2 separate regions of the Homo sapiens genome follow, and region 2 is linked to region 1. The links come from fine-mapping of genetic effects on gene expression. A gene starts in region 1. The other region holds a variant in brackets. All regions are shown on one strand. Distances are between the middles of the regions.

Region 1 (8,318 bases):
GACATGCACCACAGGTGACACACGGCTCAGCCCTCCACTGGGTCTCCTCCTTCAGGGGAGCACAGCCCAAGCACTGCATCCCCAGTCCCAAGCCCCATGCCTCAAGCCCGGTATGACACTGAGGCCCAGAAACATCACTCCGGCCGCTGGGGCCACAGGCTCTTACCCGGGAGCCCCAGGCACCTGCCACCACAGCAGCCTTTCATAAACAAGAAGGAGTCGCTTTCCACCAGGCTGCCAGAGCCTGGCTACACCTCACCATTGCCATCACTCTAGGAGCCTGCTGACTCGTGTGGTGGGAAAGGGCTGGTGGCTGTTCCCTGGAGAGGCCACACTTGCCCCAGAACTGCAACAGAGATCGGGCTGGGCTTGGCTGCCTCCACAGCACCACCCACCTCTGTGACTTATTAAGACAACCGTGGGTTCTGCGCAAGCGGGGTTGGGGAAGGAAGGGGGAGGCCAGCAGGCTGGGCTCTGCCAGCGGGGTTGCCGAGAACATCTCTGAGCACAAGGCTCGGAGGAGCAGAGGGCACTCACCCAGCACTGTGCAAGGGCGGGCACAGTAAACCCTGAACACACTCAAAACCCACGCTGCAGAAGCCCCAGTAGCCAGACTCAGTAAGGGCTGTCACTCAAGTCACCGCACCGTCACAGCAGAGGGCAGAGCAGGAACAGAAAATGCTGGAGGCCTTGGAGGCCCCAAGGAAAGCCACAGGGCCTTGACCTCCACAATCCAGGGGGCTCCATGAGCTCTGCCCCAACCCACACCAAGGACCAACACTAGGTGCAGCTTCCAGGTTCTACTGGGAGGAGATGAAAAGGCGGCCCTAAATGGGGCTGACAGGGTGCGGTCACGTACAAAGAAAGGCAATGGGAAATTCACAGGAAAACTCCCATCCATCTGATTCTCCTGTAGGACCCTCAAAAGGCCTAAGGAATTCTCGCCAACCTGAAATCAGACAACGTCATCGTATGCTCCCTGGCAGCTTTTTCAAAGGATTCGGTTTCTGGTATTTACAGAAGTACTACAGGTTGAATATCCCTAATCTGAAAACCTGAAATGCTCCAAAATCCTAAACTTTCTGATCGCCGATATGACGCTCAAAGGAGATGCTCACTGGAGCATTTGAGATTTCGGATTTTCAGATTAGGGACACTCGACCAGTATAATGCATATATTCCAAAATCCGAAGAAATCGAAATCTGAAACACTTCTGGCCCCCAGACATTTTGGATATGGGACACTCAACCTGTAGAAGCATCTGAGGGGCGTGGCTTTGGCCTCCTACCCGTCCCTCTCTGGCCAGATGACCCCAGTTCCCCAAGTGCCCCCAGCTTCCACCTGAGTCAGGCAAATCTGCGCCCCCTCCCACAAGAGCCTCCTCCTGGGAGCTCGCTCAAGACCCTCACACTCCACCCAGCCATCTCCAGTCCTGCCTCACCTCCCAGCCTCCCAGGTTCCCAGGCCAGGGGCTGGTCCCTCCAGGGCCAGTAGTGGCTGCCAGACAAGCCATCTGCCACTCAGCGCAGGGCTCCTTCTGTCTTTCCCTGGGGTATTGGTCTCCCTGCCTGCAGCCATTGCCCTCCAAATCCATCTGCCACAGAGCACCCTGAGTCACCTTACCAAAATGCCAATCTCAGCACGTCGCTCCCCAGGTTCCACGCCTGCCCTGCCCAGAACATAAAGCTCAAAGGCCTTGGCACAGCATGCAAGGCCCTGAGGGAGCTGCCCTGAGCTGCCATTCCAGCTGCTGCTGCCCAGCTCTCTCTCCCACACCTCAACTCCCTGCTCCTGTCCAAACGAGCACCCCGCTGTTACCGTCCCCATCCCAGATCAAATGCCACCTCCTCCCTGCCAACATCCACAGCACCCAACTCAGACTGCAGTGCTGTGCATCATTTCTGCTGAACCCCAGGACTTGTACCCACTAAATACCCAGCTCCTGAGGACACCCAGTCACGTCTGCAGCGCGTGGAATGGCACACAGGTGCAGCCTGGAGAACCCCCCGACTGCACGGCCACACCATGCTGCGGCTCCCATACTAAAGAGCCGGAAATGACAGCAGGCCAAGAGTGCACCCACAGGTTGAGGGCTCCAGCAGGGGCAGGGTGTGCTCAAAGGCTGTGGGCATCCAGAGGGAAGCGGAATACATTCTGCCCTGGGAACAGGAAACATTTTAAAAGGAGACAGGACGTGTGAGTTGGGTCTTTGCGGGCTGTACAGGAGGACGTACGACATGCAGAGACTAGAAGGCCATTTCCAGGAGGGGGAACAATGTGAGCAAGAGCAAAAGGTTATGAAGCGAGGAGCTGCTGTGCTGAGCCCTGGGGAGAGGCCTGAGGAAGGGCCTAGAAGGCAGAGGCAGGAGACGCCTCTGGAACAGCAAGGGCTCAAACACAAAAACGCCTCCTCCTTCCTCTGGGGGCCTGTATCCAGCTGGGCGTCCTGCTGATGTCTCTGGTCCTGGCGGGCCAGACCGGCTGGATGCAGGTTGGCTCCCCACTGCTCTACTGCCAGGCTCCCGCCCAGGCCCCTTCCTCAAGCAGCAAGGGTAGGCAGGCCGCAGGCTGAGGAGGGGGAGGCCCGGGCCTGGACTCACGAGAGGCTCCTGTACCAACAGACTACAGCTGTTCCTGAGCATGGCCTGGGCACACACCCAATCCCACAGGAGCCTGTGCTCTGTGGGAGGCGGGGAAAGCCTTCTCCACTCACAGCTGTGAGGCAGTGAGACAGACCCTCAGCTCAGGGACTACGTCACCAGGGGAAGGATGTCTGCCCTGGGAATGGGACACTCTGGATCATTTCCTCCACCATCACTCAGGAAGTCACCCTGTCACCATGGGCTTCATAGGGTGCCAGGCACACACCATGCTACACCCTGGCCCAAAGGCACCAGAGGACTGGGAAACGGGTCACGGCACAGAAGCTGACAAGAGGTGACACTGCATGAGGACCACTTGGCCAGCTGAGACCCAGCCAGGAGCCCACGCCCTGGCCCTGCCTGTCACTCCTCCACTGGGAGACCAGAGACTGTTCATGCCTCCAGCCTGACCCTTGGCTTCCGGGTCTGAGAAGGAAAGGACTGGAATGGAGCATTTCTCAGGTGCCTGCCAGTCCTGAACCTCCAAACTCATAAGGCAAGGCAAACGCTGAGGGCAAGTTCAGCACTGCAGCAAAGGGGTGGCTGGACTAGCCCAGCACCGCCAGGGGCCACTTTGCCCCAAGTTTGATCATGCCTGTCACCAGTACTCCTTACCTACACAGCTGTTCTCACGAGGGTCCAGGCTAGGGGGTGGAGCCCTCTGGGAAGACAGCTACTCACAGTAACCACAAACCCCATCTTCCCCAGGTGGGGCTGGCTGGCGCCCATGCACACCCCAGGTGGGAAGAGGAAGAAACTGATGCATTACCGGGTACACATCCACTCTAGGATCTCCAAGCGGTACTCTGAGGGGCTGCACAGCAGTTCCTGAATTGTCTTTGGCTCTGTGATATACAGACCCTCGAGGAAGGGGCAGTTTAGGTCCTAAGCAAGGAAAAGGAAAGCAACATTCACTGAAAGTCCCAGTGTACATCATTTCATTTTATTTATTTATTTATTTTTGAGACGGAGTCTCACTCTGTCGCCCAGCCTGGATGGAGTGCAGTGGCATGATCTCGGCTCACTGCAGCCTCCACCTCCTGGGTTCCAGCAATTCTCCTGCCTCAGCTCCCAGGGTAGCTGGGGGATTACAGGCATGCGCCACCACGCCCGGACAATTTTTGTATTTTTAATAGAGACGGAGTTTCACCATGTTGGCCAGGCTGGTGTCAAACTCCTGACCTCAGGTATCTGCCCACCTCAGCCTCCCAAAGTGGTGGGATTACAGGCGTGGGCCGCCGCGCCCAGTCCTCAGTGTACATCTGCAAGCTCCCAGGACCCTTTCCTTTACCCGCGTCCTGCCATCTTGCCAAGAGTTCAAGTCCCCCCATTCTTAACCCCACATCTCCCGCGGCATGCAGACCCCACCTCTTTCAAGTACTCCCACTCTGGGCTCTTGTGGCAGCAGGACCTAGGAGCAACGCCTGAGACTAAGACTTAAGAGAGAGTCCTAGGTTTCGGGACTGAGGGAAAGGGGAGAGGGAAAGGGAGAGGGACCACTGAGCCAGTCGCGGACAGGATGGGGGAGTGTCTGGGGGGAGGAGCGAGCGGGCCGAGGGGACCTGGGACAGCTCCCTAACCTCGTGGGCCAGCTTTCCTCACTGCTGCAGTGAGGGCTCTGTCCTGTGGGGCTGTAGAGGGCTTCTGGAGGCTATCACCCCTGGCATCTGACACCAACTGACACCAAGCCCTAGTCTCGCTGACTTGACAGAGTGGCACGAGGCTCTGCCCATCTGTCCCCCCAGACCCCGCAAGATCCCTAAGGCCAGGCCTGGGTCCTCTGTGTCTGCACTTGCTCCGAGCGCCCAGCGCGGGTACTGCAGTTCCACAGGCGGTGCTGGCCCCAACTACCAGGCACGGGCCGTGGAGACAGCAAGAACGAAGGCCTGGGGCACACCAAAGGGCAAAGATGAATGATCCACAAGCACCCCCTGCTGCAAGGGAACAGGGCGCAGCCGGAACCGGCGACGGTGGCCGCGTGGCGCCGCGGACTTCCGCAGCAAGCCCTCCCGGGCCTCGGGCGGGGCCCTCCCCGGTCCCCCGCCCTGGAGTGGCTTTCTGGGCCAACAGCACCTTCAGCTTCCCGAACACCTCCACAGCCGCCCTGGACACGCTGCTGTCGCCCTCGTCCTCTGAGTAGTCGTCGCCGCCACGGCCGCAGCCAGCGTCCTGCCCCGCCATGTTTCGCGCTCCGAGCCGCGCCCCGCCCATGCCCTGGCTTCACTGGCCGGCAAGACCGCCAATCAACCTCCAGCGTTCTTCCCGCCCACCCGCCTGCGCCCACCCCCTTCCCGACCGACCCTTCCCATTGGGCGACATCTCCGCCTGCGCGGGCCCCGGGCTCCCACCCCCCGCCCCGGCACCACCCAGAGGCAGGACCACAGTGAAGCGGGCAGGGCGGACACAGGGAAGGGGGCGGGGCGGACACAGGGAAGGGGGCGGGGCGGACACCGGGAAGGAGGCGGGGCGGACACCGGGAAAGGGGCGGGGCGGACACCGGGAAGGGGCGGGGCGAACGGGCCAAGCTGGCTCTGAGTCGCAGGCCTTGCTGGCGTCGCCCCTGCTGCCGGCCGGGAATGATGATGCGTTGAAGCGAGGCTCTTCCAGGAGGGGGCGCTCCTGCCTTGGTCGGGTTCTCCTGGGCCACCACCACTAAGGGGCACCCTGGTTCCCAGGAGGACCAAGGGGAGCCTTGGGTGCAGAATGGAACTCGGACTGAAGCGTTCCTCTCCCAGCGCGGGGCTCCGTCTTCTCTTCACCATGCTCACGCTGTAGTTAGAAGGAAATTTCTTGTCACTCACCAGCTGTGTGCCTTTGAACCAGTTACCTAACCTCTCTGTGCCTCTTTGCCCTCACCTAATGGAGCTAATGAGAGCACCTTACCCACTGGGTTGCTAATGAGGATGGCAGGCGGTAATAATTCCTGTGGAATCCCTAGAACAGTGCCCGGCGCATGCGAAGAACCACGTAAATGCTCACTATTGTAATACATGCTGGGCCCTGCTCCCCTCACGGCTCCTGGGGCTACCTGTGGCTCCTTCCTATCCTGTCTACTTAACAAATTTTTCTACATCCCTCAGGACCCTCAAACTCAATGCGTCTGCAATGAAATATGTCAGTCGCTCCTCCCCCAGACCTGCAAAGCCCCCAGTTCACTGAATGCCCCTTACCCAGGGACCTGCTGATTGGGCAAGGCAGGAAGGAGTTGGAGGGTGGCTTGTGCCCAGTAGCCAGGAGACAGCAGCAGGCAGCTGCCACTGTGCCCTCCTCTGTGCCCTACCCTGCCATCTCCTGGAGGGTGGGATCAGGGGGCAAGTCTATAGTCAGGGAGACCCAGGGACCTGCTGGGAGGCAACTGCAGTCATCCAAGTGACAGGAGGGGACTTCACTCCGTCCTGGGAGGAGGGAGCGGGCAGGAGTCCGGGGGTCACAGGAAGGGACCTCAGCCTGGGAGGCCCCGACACAGGCCCAGCGAAGTGCCTCAAGGTTGCTCTCTACCCTTCCACGTGGCTGCTGCCTCAGGCCCTTCTGGTAGCTGAGGGCTGTCAAAGGCTTTGGGATTTTTTTTTAAGCGTTTTTTTCCCTCTTTTTTGTTTTTGTTTTTCTTTCTTTCTTTTTAGAAAATTTCATCTCAATCACAGCCCCAGCTCAGACATTCAAATTCTTGTGGGTTTTTCTGTGGATCTTTCCTAGGACTGGGGAATTTGGCGGAAGAAACCACGGCAGTGTGGCAGCCTCCCCCAACCCTCCCCATATTCTCTGCTCCTGAGGACCGGGAAGAAACCAGCTCCTGTGTACTCTGGAAGAAAATCTCCCTCCTCCACCCAGCTCCACGGAGCCAGTGTGCTCAACAGGCCTCCCCAACCTCAGCAGTTCAGTCTATGGGACCCTGAGGAACTGGCAGGGCCTTGAGAGGCGAAGATCATCTTGAGAGGTTATGGAGGCCATCCCCCTCATGGAGAACCTGTTGGCCAGCCCTCAGCCCCTGGAGATGGTCGCTGAAGACCCAGCAGCAGGCTGCAGCTTCCCTGCCCACGCCACCCCACCACCCACCACCCACCACCCACCACCTGCCACCCACCACCCGCCCCCAGAATCATAGCACCTCCCAGGCATCTTCCTCCGGAAAAGCTGGAGGCTGGGGAGGGAACAGAGAGGCTGCTGGGCCTCTCAGGAAGGGGGAAAGAAGGGGCCCAGAGGTAGAAGCTTCTGGAAATGTGGACTCAAGCTCAGTCCAAGAAAGCACTCCTCCCAGAAATCACTGTCTGAACACCAGCTGGCTGCCAGGAGAGGAAGGGAGCTCCCGGTCCTAGAAGGTCTACAAGCCCAGGGAGGTGGGTGGGCGGGGATGTGGAGGGTTGAGTCCTACCATGGGGGAGGGAGGGGGCACATCTCTAAGGGACATTCCAACCCAGAGACCCCAGGTTCTCTGAGGGAGGCCTGGGTGGGTCAGGAGCCAAAAATGTGGCTGAAGGACCCATTGACCTGGAGGAGGGATGTTGGGGGGAAGCTGTGGATGTGGCGGGGAAGCTGGGGGGTCCTGGTCATGGAGGAAAGTTGGCCATGCGTCCCAGCAGGGCCTCAGCCGTGTCAGTGCTTGGAAAACACGTTGGAAAATGAGACTGGTTCACGGCACTGGCCCCGCTGTGCCAGAGATGGGCTGGCGGGTGCTGGTGGCATTCGAGACCTCTCAGTTTGTGTGGTGGGCCCAGAGATATATGGCCAAACAGTTGAGCTCACCAAGTGGGCAGCCTCCCTGACCTGTGGAGGGTATTGAAAAAGTCCTCAGAGCATCCGGGCCCTGCTCTTCATATGACCTTAAGGGCAGACCCCACGGTGCAGCGGGAATCAACCAGGGACCCCCCAATCCCCCAAAGACACCGCGAATCAAAGGAAGCTGAAGTCCAAGGGCTTTCCTCTCTGCAGAGGCGGGTCTGCTTCTGGCAGGGGCTGGAGTTAGACCTGAGGGGGAGCCACCCCACCTGGGGGCGCCTAGGCCCTAGAATGCTGTCAGAGCTAAAGCCCTAGAAGGCCTTGCTCCACGGGGCCACTTCGACTCCCGGCCCTGAACCAGGGAACCTGGGGAGGAGCCTTTGAGGGACTGAAGTGTCCTCCATCACCCCCCACCCCTGGCCACTAAAGTTCCTCAGTAAGGGTGGAGAGTACCAAATGCAAGCTGTTGAAGACAAGGCAAGTGTGTGCGTGTGTGTGCGTGTGTGTGTTTTGGGGAGAGTTCAGGTCTAAGATGAGAAGCTGATCACACCCATGCGAGAAGCAAGTGGTGAGCCCTGGCATTGGGTTTGAGGGAGAAATGTGACAGAGTAATGAGGTCAGGCTCAGGACGGTCTGAGTGTGAGGCTCTCCGCAGGCAAGGCAAAGCCAGGGGGCTGCCTCTGCCTCCCCTCCCCTCCCTCCCCGTCCTGTCCTCCTCTCCCTCTTCCTTCTCCTCATCTCCTCCCTGTCTTCCTGGGACCTCTCTGCTGCTAAGCTGCCAGGCTGAGCTGTTGGTCACCCATCCACCCTGCATCCTGGCATGCAGGCTCAGTACCCAGGTCTTGCGGGCAGCCCACGCCATCTGCACCAGCCAGGAGCCCACCCGAAACCCAGCCCTATCCTTGCAGATGGGGGAAGGGATGGAGAACACGAAAGCAGGGGTGGGGGCCTTGCAAATGAGA
Region 2 (8,318 bases), 29 kb after region 1:
AGAGATGCCCCTGGCTCTGCTGCCTCCGCTGTCCCAAGCCCTGGTCCTGCTGTCCCCAGTGCCGCGAGGGTGTCCACAGATTTCCCCGGTGCTCTCTGTAGGCTGCTGATCCACGCCCCTTCATCGCCACCCTGCGGCCCCCTTGGTCCCTGTCAGGCTTCTGCCTCGTCTCGCCGCCCTCCAGGCACCTTTCCCTCACCCCTTCCTCTCCCTCTCCCTTCTGACCTTGCTCTGCTTCATCCACCTCTTGTCTCTCTGCCTCCCGCTCGGGGTCCGTCTTCTTGGCTACCACCCTAGAGCGTGGCTGGGTGACTGGTACCCCAGCTTTGCCAATGGCCCTGTTTCATCATTGCAAGTCCCAGGCGCATGCTCCACTCCCTCAGCCTCGCTCTGCCCAGGCGCCTCCTTGCTCCAGGGCTTGGCGCCTGGCCCGGGTTGGGTCGGATCGGGGAGGACCGCCCAGCGCCCACCGAGCTCAGCACCCAGGAGCAGTCCTCCGCTGCACTGCCTGAGGCCAGTCCTTGGCATGGGCTGAAAGACTTAGTTTCCCAGGCACACCCCAGGCACCCTGCCCAGATGTTCCTCGCTCGCTCACCCCCAGGTTAATGCTCTGCCTCTACATCCTCTGTGAGAAGTCTGGGTCCTGGGAGCCCTGGCTGCAAGGGCCCTGACTGGGGGTGCCTGGGTGGCTCAGCCCTGTCTGTTTCCAGGACCCCCTTGGACTGGGACTCAGAATGGGTGTGGAGGGGAAGGAGAGAAAATCAGGCAACTGTGCCATGCTCCCCAGGGCGGACCTGGCTTGGGGTCCCAGAGGGGCCTGCCAAGGGACCCAGGAGAGGGAGCGAGAGAGTGCCCTGGAAGGCCCACGGAGGGGAGCGCCCCCTCACTGCTCCATGGGCGGGGCTGGGTGCCTGAGCGCCTGCTGAGCAGAGCAGGGGGCCCAGGGATCTGCAGGGCACAGGGTACATCAGTCTCCAGTGGTCTGTCTTGGTGGGCAGGCCTCTCTCCTGCTGTCCTGGCTGCCAGACTGCTCAGGTCCCATCCTCAGGGGGTCCTGTTTCTGGGCCCTCGCCCCTCCCTGGCCTGCCAGCTCTCTGCCCTATAGCAACTAATTGGAACTGAGACAAGCTGGAGATGCTCAGCCCCCCTGCCCCCGTGCCAGAAAGGCTCCCGGGGACCAGCGCCCAGGGGTGCGGGTGAGCACCTCCTGGTGACACCCAGCCGCCGGTGCCAGCCGCACCCCAGGAGAGCTGGTGTATGAGCATGGATGTCTTGGTGCGGAGCATGCCCATGTATGGCCACTGTGGGCCAGCATGGTGAGCCTTTGAGGGCAAGCCCGTGTGGGTATATTGAAAGGAAGATGCAGGGCTGCCTCCAAGCCACCAGGGCTGGGCGGTGGGAGCAGGTTGCGAGCCAGGGAGCAGAGAGGGCTCCCATGGCAAGCTGGCCAGCTGTGGGTGGCAGCCCTGGCCTCCCTGGCCCACCTTCAAGCCCCAAGGACCCGTACGGCAGTGGGCATTAACCCTACCAACGCATAGATGGGGAGTCTGGGAAAGGAAGGGGGGTGTTTCCAAGGCAAGAATGAGTTTCCTGTCTTTAGCAACATTCCAGAGTCACTCAAACAAAGCTATAGCGTGTCCCTTCCAGTGACAGCGCCAAGTCCCCAGAGGAGGGGTTTGTAATGAGTTCACACTTGACAGTTAGCACTCAGAGCCTTCAGCAAGGGCTTCTGAGTCCTTGCCACCCCGTATAGAGGTGGGATGAGGACCTCCCCACCTGCCGTCTCCTGTGCTTCCCGGGCCCACCCCCCACCCCCCACCCCCCAGCATCTCCAGCCTGCCCGGGAGTCACATGTCCTCGGCCCACAGAATCCCCAGCACACGCCCCACCCACAGGCCTAGCCCCAGCCCTGGGGTCCCTGGCACCCCACCTGCCAGGGCCCCTCCCCTGCCTTGCTCACCCCCCAACACCCCTGCTTGTCGGAAATGTCTTCCCATGCCCACCACGACCCCCTCCCACTCATCTGTGGGCCGGAGAGCTTGGTCCCTGCCGCACGTTGCCCCCCTAGCATCCAGGCCCACCACCGAGCCCCCGACAGGCCTGGGAGCCCCACTGGTGGGTGGGGACCCACCAGCTGGGGGTCTTGCTCACACCGAGGGGCTGGGGGTGGCGGTGGCTTTCCCAGGGCACCCTGCCTTGGGCTGCAGGCCGCTGGGTGGGCACCGGCTCCCTCGGAAGGCAGCGCAACCCGGGATCCTGCCGGCCCTGGCCCCCACCCTGCCGACCGGGCCTGGGGCGATCAGTGCCCCAGCTCCTGTCCTCTTCTGCTCAGATGCTGGGTTGGGAGATCAGGGGCCACAGCTCGGCCACTCAGAGCCCTTTCCGCAAGTCTTAGAGGGACCAGCTGTGGGGTGTGTGCAGAGGGGCTGCGCTGTGGGGAGGGCGCATGGCTCAGTCCTCCTGGCCTGAGGCCCGCCTAGCCTAAGTGGCCTCCAGGACCCATGGCCAGGCCCTTCTGCAGCCTTCCAGAAAGAACCAGCTTCCCAGGGTTCCCTGGGGAAGGCCTGGGGCCACCTCCTCTGGAGGGGTGGGGCCTGTGCTTCATTCCTCCTTCCCCAGGTCCCCTTCCAGGCCAGAAGATCCCCTCCACCACTTGAATCCCACAGCCAGAAGCCCCTTCTGGGACTCTAGACTCCTGGGAACCATCCCAGCTGCCCCCTTCGCTGTTTCGCTGTTTGCCTTCTTCCCCTGCCCCGTCATGGCTCTAGGTCAGAGCAGCCTCTGGGGTGGCTATGGAGGGGCCACCAGCCTTGGCTCTTCCGAGGACTGCAGAACCCTCCCACTCCCAGCTTCCCACCTGCGCAGCTCTGATCCCAGCCAGCCCAAGGGGCAGGGTCAGGTCCCGGCTCCCTGGCAGGCCTGGTGAAGGTGCTGCCCATTCCCATGAGGCTCATCTCTGAGGCTTAGGGGCCTGGGGCTCTAGCCAGCCTTCTTGCATGGAACTCTCCTGGTCCACTGCATCTTAAGCCTGAGCTCCACTTAAACACTGGCCTGAGATAAGCTGGAGGACCAGGGGCCCAACGGACTCTGTGGGCCTCTTGAACTTGCCTCTGCTGGCCATCCCAGTCCTGTTTGGTCCCTGAGGTGTTCAGATGGGCCAAGGGGAGCATGGCGGGCAGACTCCTGGGTGGCCAGAAGATTAGAAGGCAGCCCTGTCCCTGGAGGCAGGGGAAGTCTGGGAAGCCAGTGTGACTTCTATCCTCTGGAAGTCTGAGTCCCTGCTTGGCCTTGACTGCCATCCCATGGTTCTTGGAGGCTGCCCTCATGCAAAGAGACACACACCCATGGGAGCCCAGCAGTCCCAGGAGCCTGAAGCTAAGCAGGCTGTGGGCCACCCTGGCTGGCTGAAGGAGGCTAATCCCAGCCCAGCCTGAGCCCCCGGCAGAGAGCGGGTTGCGGCAGGGAGGGGCTGCAGGAAACCTTCCCCTCCCCTCCTGGCCTTGGTGGGCCTGTACCAGGGAGGGAGGGAGGCAGGGCCCCAGGCTCTGGGGGGCAGGCCGGGAACACCTTCCCTGGGGCCCTGAAGTGCTCGCCTGGGGAGACGATGGCTTTTCCAGGAGACTCCCTGCAGACAGAGGCAGAGGTGAGAGGCTGGGCGGGGGCTGCCCTGCTGGCTGTGTTGGGGCTGAGGAGGGGCTTCTGGATCTGTGGGCCATAGGGAGCTACTGATGGTCCTCAGAAGGGCCATGCTTCCAGGGGAGCCCCCTGCACAGCCCCGAGAGTGTGAAGCGTGTCAGCTTTGGGGCCTGTGGCACTGTGTGCATTGGGAGAGGGTGGGTCCAGACATGGGGGCAAGGACACAGACGGACAGACAGACAGTGTGTGCAGCCCCAGCTCTGCTGTTTCCTCACCGTGTGGCCTTGGGCAAGAGTTTGGGGCCAACTTCCTGAGCCTCAGTTTACCCCTTCATCAAGTTCTAAGAGCATTGCTTCCTTCTTATAGTCAACGGGGGACGGCAGGATGCTAAGTAAAGAAATCACATGAGTCCCCTGCTCTGCCTCTGAGAGGTGACAGCATCCTCCCTTTTCCTTGGAGACTCTAGCAGGAGGCCCCGGATCTCTTCGGAGAGTGGGAGGGGGCAGCAGTAGTCCGTGTGCAGAGGACCAGGAGCGCACAGTGGGAAGGGCTGAGTCCCGCACTCCGCCGACTGTGGGGACAGGCTGGACCTTGACATGGGCGCCACAGGCTGCAAAGGGCTGGCACAGAGAGGTGGGAGGTGGCTGGGCGCATCAAGGGAGAACTCCACCCTTGTCGCCACCCTGCCAGAAAACCTCTGGAAAGGATTTGAGCAGCAGATGAGCCGGGGTTTCCCAGCCCCTCCACACGTGGCTGCAAGGGGAGCAGACGCCCA[A/G]GCGTGGCTGCCTGAAGGGCATGCTCCGGCAACGGCAGGGGCTTGGAATGTGGCACAAGGTCCACCCCTCCCCACTCCAGCCCCCAGCCCCTCAGGCAGCCACTCCCACAGATGAACGCACACGCCGGGCTTTGGCAAGGCCAGGGAGGGTACACATCCCCTCTCTGGTTGATGCCCAAGTACAGGCTGGAGCCATCGGCGGGGAGGGACTGGTGGACTGGGGCCTGGGAGAGTGGCAGGGGGCAGGCCGGGTGTCAGCGGGGGCACAAGCACCAGGCTGCTGGTTGAAACTGGGCCCAAAAGGCTTTGGAGGCCAGAGGGGAGGGGAGGAAGGACACAGTCCCGGGGACCCCGCAGGGCTGCGTGGAAGGTGGCACATGTGTCAGAGTTCAGGTCGGGTTGCTCAGGGGGGCAGACGCCCAGGGCTGAGGCTGCGGAGACAGCATCCGGCGTCTGCCACTTGGCAGCTGTGAGCCACACCATCTGCAGGCGAGCTCCCAGGGCCCGCCAGACCTCAAGCCCTGCTCCCGCCGCCCTTGGCCTGGCCTGAATGCCTGGCACGGACCCTCCATGTTCTCAGAGGCTGCCAACGCATCTTGTTTGGCTGTGACCTCGAGCAATCCAGTGCAGAGGACTGCGCTAGCTTTCAGAGGGGCAGACAAGGAGGGCCCTATTGGGGTGGTGGCGGAGGCTCCAGGAAGCCCAGCCTCCTCCCTCACTCACACCTGCGGTCGCCAAACCTGGGGCTTATGCCATTGCCGCCCCTGTCCTTTGCTCTAAAGAGATGGTATCCAGGGAGCTCAGGGCACACTTTGGTGGGGCTTGAAACCCTCCCTGAAGTCCCTGAAGACACACCCAGAGAGGCCAATGAAGGGAAACTGAGGCCCAGAGGCCTCAGTTGTGGTGGTGGAGAGTTGAGGACTGGAGGGACTTGCTGTGGGTCTCACAGGATCTGACTATGGGGTATTCCTGCTTCCTGGGCTGGGGTCCCCGCCTGCCTTATCTATGTGTGGATATATGTGTATGTATGTGTATATGTATACATATGTATATGTGAATGTGTGTATGCATGTGTGTATAGATGTGTGCATGTATGTGTGTACATATGTGTATGCGTGTATACAGGTGTATATGTGCAGGTATGTATGTATGTATGTGTGCATGTATGCATGTGTGTGTGTGTGTACGTGTGTATAAATGTGTATGTGTGCGTGTGTGTGCATGTGTGTGCATGTGTGTATGTGTGCATGTGTGCATGTGTGTATACATGCATGCATGTGCGCATGTGGATGTACATGTGCATGTATGTGTATAGATGTGTGCATGAGTGTGTGTGCATCTGTGTATATATGTGTGTATATGTGTATCATATGTGTATGTGAATGTGTATACATGGGTATGCATGTGTGAGTGTCTAGGTGTGTGCATGTATATGTGTGTACATGTGTGTATAGGTGTGTGCACGTATATGTGTGGATGTGTGCATGTATGTGGATGCATGTGGATGTGTGTACATATGTGTTTTGTATAGGTGTGTGCATGTGTGTGTGCACGTGTGTACATATGTGTTTTGTATAGGTGTGTGCGTGTGCACGTGTGTGTATGTGAGCGTGTATGTGTGCATCTGTGTGTGTGTTTGTGTGTGTATGTGTGTACGTGTGTGTGTGTGCATGTTCTGGCAGGAGGGAGGGGCTTGGTGTGAGGTGGTGGGGAGAAGGCAGGGGCCAGGCTTTGGGAGGACAGCTGAGCCTATACTGCCAGGACCTCCCAAACTGCCACCCCCAGTCTTGGGCATTCAGGCTCTCACAGGCCCAGAGACATGGCTGGAGCCCTGTGGCTGAGGAGCACAGCTGAGAGCTCAGGCGGGGCCTGGAGGCGCCAAAGCTGAGTTCCAAGTCAGGCTGAGTGACTTGGGAGAAATCAGAGCCTCTCTCTCGGCCTTAGCTTTTGTGTCCATAAAATGGGGATACTCATCAGGCCAGCTCCAGGGGATCCTATCCTTCCCCCCAGGCTCCCCTGGCTCCCTCTGACTTCATGGGCCCCTTGCTGCCTCCTGTGGGCTCAGACACGGAGCCTGCCCCTTCCTCGGGAGAGGTCTCAGTTTTGTGCCAGTTCTTTGAGGGGAAATGAGGGATGTGCCGGGAAGCCTGCCCGGCCCCCGCCCCTCCAGCCTGCCCACTGCTTGGGCACAGCCATGAGCCATGGAAAACCAGCCAAACCTTGTCCTTCTGCCTCTGTCACGGGGCCCGGGTGTATGGGCCTTCCAGCCCTCAGCCTCCCTCCCCGCTCTGAGGGAACCTCTTCCCCTTGCCCCTTTCTCAGTCTCTTGGAGACCCCCCAGACATCCTACTGTATCAGGCAGCCTGCCTCCAGAGCCCTCGTTGCCCCACAGCTGGTCCCGGGAACCCGCCTGAGACCCCGATGGCCAGTCTTGCCGTGACTGGCCTGCCCTGTGCCTGTGCCCCCTGCCCTGGTGGAGGGCCCGATTCCCTAACAGGAGGGCCTGCAGGGAAGTCCCAGCTCCTGGGGAGACCCCTTGCCCCGGGGCAGGAGTCCCTGTAGAGTCCTCCTCCAGGCCAATGCGTGGGTCCTGGGGGGCTCCAAGCTGGCCATGGTCAGATGGTCCTCTGTCCCCTCGGCCTTCCCCAGCCCCTCCCCACAGCCTCCCGTAGGCCCAGCCGGACCACCCCAACCCTACCTGTCCAGGTGGACTGCCCACCCTGGAGCTTGCCAGGGCTCTGGCGGGGTGTCCCAGCCCTGACTCACTCTCCCTGGGAGGTAGCGGCTTTGGCAGGGGCATCGGCAAGGAGGGGCAGGGCAGTCTCCTCCCTCCCCCACTCCATCTTGCTCTCCTGCTTCCACCCTGCCCTTCCTGTTCTCTCCCACTGCTCCTCCTCCTCCTCCTCCTTCTGCCCCCGGGTGTCCACTGGCACTGGGAGAGGGTCCTACAGCGGCAGCAGGCATCGGAGGCCCTGCCCTGCCCTGGAGGAAGGGAAACACCATCCAGGTAGGTGAGTGTTGAGCCTTCTCCCTACTTGGGGGCCAAGACCCTCCGGGCGGTTCCCCTAGGTTCTGCTGGGCCGGCCTGAGGCTGGCAGGCCCTGGGCTGCAACTGTGGGATCTCAAGGCTCAAAAGAATGAGGGAGGCTCGGTGCTGCCCCAGCAGGGGCCTCCTGGTGACCCCAGGGGTCAGCATGAAGTCCAGCTCCACATGAGGGGGAAGCTGAGCTAAGCCTTGGGCTCCGACTCCCACTTTGCAGTGTGGCCCAGGGCCTGTGGGCTCAGGAGGGCTCCGGGGCTGGCTGCGGAAAGGCCACTCCACAGGCCTGGCAGCCGCTATAGCCACAGCCTCACCACAGGCCCCTCTGTCCACAGGTGTGGGAGGGCGCATGGGTGGCTTCTAGGGGGGATGCCAATGCAGGGGGGACGCGTGCCAGCAGATGCTCCCTGGAGCACCCGAGGAGCTGCATGGGGGCGACAGGACAGGCCTCCATCCCAACCCTCTCCTGGGCTTGTGCTCAGACCCAACCTGGCCCTGAAGTGGCCTCAGGCCCCCGGCCCGCTGGTAGCAAGGACTCCAAAGCGGCAGCCCCGGGCAGCCAGCCCAGCCCCCAGGGCAACTGGGGAAGCATCGGGCAGGGCGGGGCTGCTCATAGGGTGCTGGCCTGGGGGCAGAGCCCCCACCTCCCCACGGCCTCCTTAGACCCCTGCAACCAGCAGCTGGGCTTAGGGGGCTCACCTCGCTCTGCTGGAGCCCCAGACAGCCCCTCCCCAGCTAGTACTGGCCCTAAGTGAGGGTCTCCTGGGCGTGCGACTGCTTCAGGTCTGCCAGAGGCCCCTGCTGCCCAGCTGGGCTCCCCATCTCCAGATGCACCGAGGGCCACCCCAGGCTGGGTGGCAAGCAGGG

Which allele goes with the higher level. Alleles are on the strand shown, and positions count from the first base shown. SD is a standard deviation of normalised expression in the study named.
With allele G in place of A in region 2, the expression in unexposed skin of the gene that starts at base 4,843 in region 1 is higher (small effect, 0.34 SD a copy in GTEx).

The links.
Region 2: its variant is fine-mapped to the expression of HAUS7 in unexposed skin (GTEx, PIP above 0.99).

Annotation. Positions count from the first base shown.
Region 1 is chrX:153,465,734-153,474,051 of GRCh38, forward strand. HAUS7 (HAUS augmin like complex subunit 7) reads right to left here and starts at 4,843. Exons shown (of 10, transcript NM_001385482.1): 1 at 4,717-4,843; 2 at 3,413-3,528. The coding sequence starts at 4,824. RefSeq lists enhancers at 4,135-4,314, 4,465-4,564, 5,078-5,372 and a silencer at 4,895-5,204.
Region 2 is chrX:153,495,149-153,503,466 of GRCh38, forward strand. The region is part of intron 1 of BGN (biglycan); the gene reads left to right. It also overlaps a transcript of HAUS7 not described here. Among named protein-coding and RNA genes, the nearest start is that of BGN, 4.3 kb to the left of the region's middle. The variant A/G (reference allele first, on the strand shown) is at 4,412.